Linked DNA regions of Homo sapiens. The protein of the gene in region 1 interacts with the protein of each later gene in a pairwise test. Each region holds a gene or a part of one and is shown on either strand. Other genes may lie near its edges.

What was found.
Region 2: the proteins of BCAN (region 1) and LYN interact in binary tests that used the Homo sapiens proteins (3 or more experiments, as listed by UniProt).

What each region holds. Positions count from the first base shown.
Region 1 is NC_000001.11:156,640,931-156,644,916, forward strand, and holds the start of BCAN (brevican core protein isoform 1 precursor), read left to right. Parts: upstream 1-1,186; 5' UTR 1,187-1,345; intron 1,346-1,452; exon of another isoform or gene 1,453-3,986. UniProt on the Homo sapiens protein: May play a role in the terminally differentiating and the adult nervous system during postnatal development. Could stabilize interactions between hyaluronan (HA) and brain proteoglycans.
Region 2 is NC_000008.11:55,949,092-55,953,114, forward strand, and holds part of LYN (tyrosine-protein kinase Lyn), read left to right. Parts: intron 1-1,367; coding exon 1,368-1,466; intron 1,467-1,589; coding exon 1,590-1,693; intron 1,694-2,874; coding exon 2,875-3,024; intron 3,025-4,023. UniProt on the Homo sapiens protein: Non-receptor tyrosine-protein kinase that transmits signals from cell surface receptors and plays an important role in the regulation of innate and adaptive immune responses, hematopoiesis, responses to growth factors and cytokines, integrin signaling, but also responses to DNA damage and genotoxic agents.

The DNA.
Region 1 (3,986 bases):
GGCGTTGGCACATTCAGTGGGGAGCAGTCCAGAGTTCCCAAGAGGGACCTAGGGTGCAGTCTAGATGGAAGGCTGGGGATCTGCCTTGAGGTTGCATTTGCATTGAATGCACCTTACTTTACTTGGGGTATTTTGAAGATGCTGTGGAGATTATGAGGATCAAAGCCCTCCAAAGCTATCCTTGGTGCCAATATTGGTATCCAGGGGAGGGAATCTAGGCATCTGGCTGTCCTGCCCACTGTCCGTGCCAGGGGCTTTGCCTACAGTCCCAGGAGGGAGGAGGGAAAAGCAAAGAGAGCCTGGGAAAGGAGAGGGAAGCAGAGGCCCTGGAGCTGGGGGAAAGGAGGGTCATTGGTATTCTGGGCGCTGAGGAGTTCCTGGCTGGGCAGCACTCAAGGCCCACCCCCTGGCATCAGGCTGCACATTCAGCATCGACAGCCCTGGCCAGTAGGCCTTCTGGGCTCCCAGCAACGCCTGCATTTTGCACATTGGTTTGCATGACTGGTAATGTCCCTTCACAGGGCCACCCTCACCCCACCCCCACCCCAGGTCTAGAGATTTCCTGAATTGCTTTGCTTAACCCATGATTCTGCTGTCTAACCTCCATCCTTCCAGCTGCAAAGTCAGCTCCTCCTCTGTGCAGGGAGTGGGAGCACCACAGGAGCCAATGCCCAATCATAGCTGCCTCCAGGGAGGTAGCTACGGTCCTTTGCACCCCATTCTGCCTCCAGAAAAGAGTTTTCCATTTTTTTTATTAGAAAGGGTGTCTCTTTTCAGGAGCAAAGCCCCCATTCTCCCTTCATCCACTTCTTACAGTCTAATTGACTCCCTCCTCCTTCTTCTTTGAACAACGAGAAGACTCTCCAGTTGTCCAACTTCCACCCCTCCAGCTGCAACATCGTCATCCTTTAGCTCAGCGAACGCTGGGCGAACGCTCCCTCCCCGCCCCTCCTGCCCCTCCTCCCTACTCCAAGCCCTCGGCTTCTCATCCGCTGAACGATGTCCTACTTCGCTCGTCCTTGCTCTCGCCGCTGCTGCCGGAGCCGAAGCAGAGAAGGCAGCGGGTCCCGTGACCGTCCCGAGAGCCCCGCGCTCCCGACCAGGGGGCGGGGGCGGCCCCGGGGAGGGCGGGGCAGGGGCGGGGGGAAGAAAGGGGGTTTTGTGCTGCGCCGGGAGGGCCGGCGCCCTCTTCCGAATGTCCTGCGGCCCCAGCCTCTCCTCACGCTCGCGCAGTCTCCGCCGCAGTCTCAGCTGCAGCTGCAGGACTGAGCCGTGCACCCGGAGGAGACCCCCGGAGGAGGCGACAAACTTCGCAGTGCCGCGACCCAACCCCAGCCCTGGGTAGGTGAGTGCCTCCGCAGCCCCGCCGCCCGCCGTGGGGTCGGGGACAGGGAGAAGGGAGTGCCTGCCTGGTCTGCGCCCCCCGCCTGTCAGCCCTTGCCTCGAGGCTCTGGGGCACCCAACTCGTCGACTCCTGACACCGCAGCGGGGTAGGCTGCTGGACAGCCCCGAGCGCCTGCAGCTGCTGCTGCCATCTCTGATCTACATGCTTCCAGCTCTGCCAGTGGCAGCCCCCCTGCTGCTCGCAGTCTGATCAGCAACCCCTCGGGTCCTCGCATCTTCCCTGCTGCGCGCTCCTGTCCCAGCGCGGCCGCCGAGATTTCCGACCTTGTCCCAGGCAGGGCGGTAGCGTTCCGGATCAGTCCTTGCCTCCGTGCCCCCACGCACAGGCAGCTCCAGGAGCAGCGGCCAGCAACCCTTCTGGGGACACCTTACTGTAGTCCGGCAGGACAGCCGATCAGAGCCGCTCTAGGGGGTGGTCGGAGTGCCCATTTCGGCTGGAATCCCAACTCGGCTCCTTGCTCTGTGACCTTGGGGTAGTTAGTTGACTTCTCTGAACCTCGGGTTCCTCATCGGTGTAATGAGCAAAACATAAACAATCTTTTTCTCACAGTTGAGGTTATCCACAGGAAGCATTTAGGAGAACTGGCTCAGGTAGACATCAGTAACTATTAGCTGGAATTCGGTTACCACTATTGCATTCCTTCCTAGCACTGCCAGGGGCCTGGGAATTCCCTCTCCCAGGTATTTCCATATCCTGTCAGGTATTCCCCCACCTATTGGAATAGCTCTGCCTACATGGTTCTAATAGGACCAAGAGATTGGCGTCAAGTCCAAGGGGCACCATTATTATCTGCATTACTTAGATTGCAGATGATGACAGTAAGATCAGGGAACAGTGTTACCCTTAGACCCACCCACAGTATTACCAGTGCCTATGTTGCTATGGCTAACTTTGCTATTTATAACAGCATCATCCACATTTCAGATTCTATACGAGAGGGATCTGCAACTGCTCGGCTGGTGTCATTGCTAATAGTATTATTAGTTTTGCTTCCAATAAAAAGGACTATTTATATGATGATTGCAATTACTTCTACAGGCCCTAAGGCCCTGCTTATATTGTGTAGGCTCATGTTGCTCCTCATGAAGCCGTTAAGGGGGTAGCAGAGAGCTTCCCTCCTGCTATAGCCAAAGCTCTGGCTTCTTGTGCCTCCCTGCTGACCCTGCTGAGTGCTGGAGCTCAGTTCCTATGGGACAGACCTTGGCTGCCGGCTGATGGGCATTCAGCATGGAGGTGGTGGGTGTTGTTAGATGTGTGTACACACGTGCATGCCTACACACACACACACACACACACACACAGAGAGAGAGAGAGAGAGAGAGAGAGAGAGAGACCTGGTCTTAACTCTCTGGGTTGGGTCTATGAAGACTGTGAGGGAGATGGACATCCCGGGTCAGACAGAAATGATGTGACAAGAGGAAAGTTTCCTGAACAGCTCAAGAAATTCAAAACAAGGGCAGAGATACAGACGCTGGAGCTGAAACAGAGAGGGGGATGTTGTGGCGTCAAGGGAACGGACCGCATGACTGCTGAGCTCTCAGGGTTAGAGTTGGAGAGGTGTGGCCTGCTCTGGAGGAAGAGAAGAGGAAGTGGAGATGAGTGGTGTGTGGGATAGAGAAGGCCACAGAACCCTGGACCCCTGGGTTCTGAGGCTGGTACCGGATGTGGGGAAGTCTGAGTTTCCTCAGGGCTCCTAGCTGCAATTGGGAGGCTGAGGCCCGAGACTGGAGAGACAGAGCTCTCTCAGAACTGCACGGGGCTACCCTCTTGGCCTCACTGGTCAGTGACTCCCATTTTTGGGGTCAAGGGTAGGTTGCCCTCCATGTTCCAGAGCAGTTAGGTCCTCATTGGCCTTAGGCCCTCTTCCCTCACTCTCCCACTGTCAGACAGAGGTGAAAGGGTGGTCCAGGGTGTTGGCCCCAAAATGACTCCAACTATATGGGTCTCTGGGCTGCCCGTCAGAGAGATGGGAGCCAGGTCTGTGAGCAGCTCCAGCTCCAGCCCAGAGAGAAGGGAGGGAGGGCACCAGAAGGGGGCCAGGCCCAGGCCCTGGCACAGCTCAGATGCATGGCAAACAGTCTTCCCAGCACCCGGTGGGCACTGGCTGCTCCTGCCCAATGGTCCCCACTCCAGCCCCAGAACAGTCCTCCCAAGCACCCCAATGCCTGGAGCTGGTCTCCGCACCTCTAATCTGGCCCCATCAAGAACCTCCTCCCTCTGAAAGGTCAGAGAGAGGCCCTAAGCATCTGGTTGTGCCACTCCTCTCCCAACTCTGACCCTAGGGAATGATATCCAGACACAGTGGGGGAGATGGGGGTTATGATGGCAGGGAGGTGGGAGGATCTGGGAAAAGTAGGAAATTTCCCATCATCTCAGGCTTAGGAAAGTGCAGGGACAGGTATGAAGGCAGATGCTGAGAGGGCAGGGAAGATGGGGGATAAACAGTGGGCCTGGAATGGGAGTGCACAGCCAGTGGAATAAACCTGATCTCTAGGAAGTCCTGCCTGTAGTCTAACCTTCAATTCTCTTGCTGCATCATTGGCCTATTCCATGGCATACCTGGATCTCCATGCTCTTCTAA
Region 2 (4,023 bases), on another chromosome or scaffold:
GAGGACTCGAGCATGGTGCTGAAGCTCACTTGCTTGGAATTGTCTTATGGTTTTCTTCTTTTCATAGTGTCCATCTCTATGATAACTAGATGTTTGAACAAAGGAGTTTATAATGCATGAACTGTGGACCAGTATTCCCTTGACTCTCATTTCTATAAGGATTTGAAAGCATTTCTTAGCTATCCTGGGGCAAGTTACAAACCTTTTGTTTCTGTGAGATGGGAGCCATTTGTACCAACTCTTCTTTGTGCACCCCTGATCGCAGTGATGCGTGCTTTAGTTGTAAGGCTGTTTTCCTTTGCTTCTGTCTCTAAACATATTTTAATTCCATCACGGAGAGTGAATTTTCCCACTGGATTCTGGGGTTCCAGAGATGTTCTCCACCCGCCTTCACCATCCTAAACAAACATCTTGAGACAATTGCTATTGTAGCTGTTGAGTCTTGGATATAAACACTTTTTTCCTTTTATTTTTAGTTGACATGGAATAATTATATGCAGTCATGGGATACAGAGCGATATTTTGATACATGTATGCAGTGTGTACGGATCAAGTCAGCGTAATTAGCATATCCATCATCTGGAACATTTATTCTTTCTTTGTGTTGTGAACATTCAAAACCCTCACTCCTGGCTTCTTTTCTTTGTCTCTCTCTCTCTCTTTTTAATAGCTTTATTGAGAATTCACAATACCATACAATCCATCTACTTAAAGTGTACAATTCAGTGATTTTTTTAGTATAGTCACAGAATTGTGCAATCATCACCACAATCCATTTTAGAACATTTTAAATACCCCAAAAGGAAACCCTGCACCCCTTAGCTGTCACCTCAACTCTCCCATTCTCTGCAGCCCTAGGAAACCACGAATCTACTTTTTATCTCTGAAGACTGACCTATTCTGGATATTTCACATAAATGGAATCATACAATATGTGGTCCTTTTTGACTGCCTTCTTTTATTTAGCATAATGTTTTCAAAGTTCATCCCTGTTGTAGCATCTCTCAGCACTCCATTCCTTTCACTGCTGAGTAATACTCCACTGGATGGATATTCCAGATTTTGTCCATTCATCAGTTGATAGGCATTTTGGTTGTTTCTACTTTTTGCTTTTACAAATAAGGATGCTTTGAACATTCATGTACAAGTTTTTGTGTGGACATTATGGTTTCATCTTTCTTGGGTATATGTCAAGGAGTATAGTTGCTGGGTCCTGTGGTAAGTCTATGTTTTCTTTATTTTTAATTTTTTAATTGATATGTAATATCTGTACATAAATACATATTTATGGGATATCTGTGATATTTTGATACATGCATGGAGTATGTAATCTTTTAGCTTCTTTTTGATGTGTATTTCTATTCTAGGCATGGAGAATGGTGGAAAGCAAAGTCCCTTTTAACAAAAAAAGAAGGCTTCATCCCCAGCAACTATGTGGCCAAACTCAACACCTTAGAAACAGAAGAGTGAGTCCTCATGTGTTGTCATCTTGGTGGCTTTATTTGCCACATTGGATTTCTTGTTAATATTCTTCACCTTTTTCTTGCCGTGGAACATAATATGCAGGAAATGTTGAAATGTCTTCACAGGTGGTTTTTCAAGGATATAACCAGGAAGGACGCAGAAAGGCAGCTTTTGGCACCAGGAAATAGCGCTGGAGCTTTCCTTATTAGAGAAAGTGAAACATTAAAAGGTAGGAAATTGTTCAAAGCCTCTTTTAAAACACTATTTAGGAAATTATTTTTAGAAACTATTCTAGAGCTACTCAAGGGGAAAAAAGGGCATATAGTATGCTCTGGTAGTAAAAGTTTTATGGTTTGATAACAAATAACAAACCTCAGTGATTAGTTGTGCTACTAAAAGTAATATAGTTGAGTGTGGTGGCTCACACCTGTAATCCTAACACTTTGGGAGGCTGAGGCGAGAGGATCACTTGAGTCCAGCAGTTAGAGACCAGCCTGGGCAACACAGCAAGACCCCATCTCTACAAGAAATACAAAACTTAGCCAGGCCTGGCAGCACATGCCTATAGTCCCAGCTACTCTGGAGGCTGAGGTAGGAAGATCACCTGAACCCAGGGAAGGGAGGCTGCAGTGAGCCGTGATCACGCCACTGCACTCTAACTAGCCTGAGTGACAGAGTGAGGCACTGTCTCAAAAAAAAAAGAGAAAAGAAAAGAAAAGTACTGTAGAAAGCACACATGATTGTGGCCAGTTCTTACCAGGCTTTGTTTGCTGAGCCTTTTGCATTATTATTTGAATAAATCCTGAAGTTTTAAGACAAAGAAAATTAGGCTGGGCGTGGTGGCTCAGGCCTGTAATCCCAATGCTTTGGGAGGCCGAGACTGAGAATCACTTGAACCCAGCAGTTTGATACCAGCCTGGGCAACATAGCAAGAGCCTGTTTCTATAAGAAATTAAAAAATTAGCCAGCTGTGGTGGTGCATGATCGTAGTCTCAGCTACTTGAGAGGTTGGGGTAGAAAGATCGTTTGAGCCCAAGAGGTGGAGGCTGCAGTTAGCTATGATTGTGCCACTCTACTCTAGCCTGGGTGACAGAGCAACAACCTATTTCAAAAAAAAAAAAAAGAAAATCAAAGTAACTTAAAAAAATTTAAATGTAGCTAAATAATAATTTTAAAAAAATTATCATGAAGAAAGAAAATGGTATGTTGGCAAGCTACACAGCAAACAAAATGCCAGCTTCATTTGTCAAGTAGAATTTTTATAGGACTTTTAAAATTATGCATTTTATACAAATTTCATAAATATATGTATTTTGCATATTTGTATCACAAAATGTGTACTGCAGTTGTTGTATAATGCAGATCTTATTTGTGAGATATAAACATTTACTTACACTTTTCCCCCCATAGGAAGCTTCTCTCTGTCTGTCAGAGACTTTGACCCTGTGCATGGTGATGTTATTAAGCACTACAAAATTAGAAGTCTGGATAATGGGGGCTATTACATCTCTCCACGAATCACTTTTCCCTGTATCAGCGACATGATTAAACATTACCAAAGTAAGTAAAAACTGAAGGTTCAACAAGACAAGATATATTTGTTATGATATGTATAAGACGTCAAACGCTATTTTTATATTAAAACTTTTTATGCATCGTATTTCTCTTAGATACAGTTGCAGGTCATATTCTATAAGTGGTTCTAAATTAATCTATAGTTAGGCCAGGCACAGTGGCTCACGCCTGTAATCCCAGCACTTTGGGAGGCCAAGGCAGGTGGATCACTTGAGGTCAGGAGTTCGAGACCAGCCTGGCCAACCTGGTGATACCCCATCTCTACTAGAAAAAAAAAAAATTAGCCAGGCATAGTGGTGCGTGCCTGTAGTCCCAGCTACTCGGGAGGCTGAGGCAGGAGAATCACTTGAACACAGGAGGCGGAGATTGCAGTGAGCTGAGATCGCGCCACTGCACTCCAGCCTGGGTGACAGAGCAAGACTCTGTCTCAAAAAACAAATACTAAAATAAAAGCAATTAATTAATCTACAGTTAAATACACAAAGTAAGATTTGATCCTTGTGAATAATTCTCCCAGTCCTTCCCACCTAGTACATGCTGTTTGACATTCAGTGTTCCACAATTACCAAGAGAAAAATATATATTGTCTTTGCATATATTTTTACAATGCATCTGAATATCTGGAATAGGAATGCAGATTTGCAGATCTGTGTTTGTGTGTGTGTGTGTAAAAGTAATGTATATTCTTGGTAAAGTCAAACGGATATAACACTACCACTGAAATATTTAGAAGTGGCAGGTCAATGTCCCTGTCTCCAGTGCCACTTTGCAGTCCTGAGAAGCCTGGGCCTGAGACTCTGGGTCCCTTTCCTGTGTAATTGGAGTCAGTTGAGTGGTTGTTGCCCCGGCTCCTTTCTATGACCTGCTCGAAGGGGATGCACATTATAGGTTTGCTTGAGTCCCAAAACACGGAGAGAGCAACGTGCTTCCGATTTTGTAGATTCTTGCCTTCCTCCGCCCTCCCATTCCTGTGTGCATCCGGCA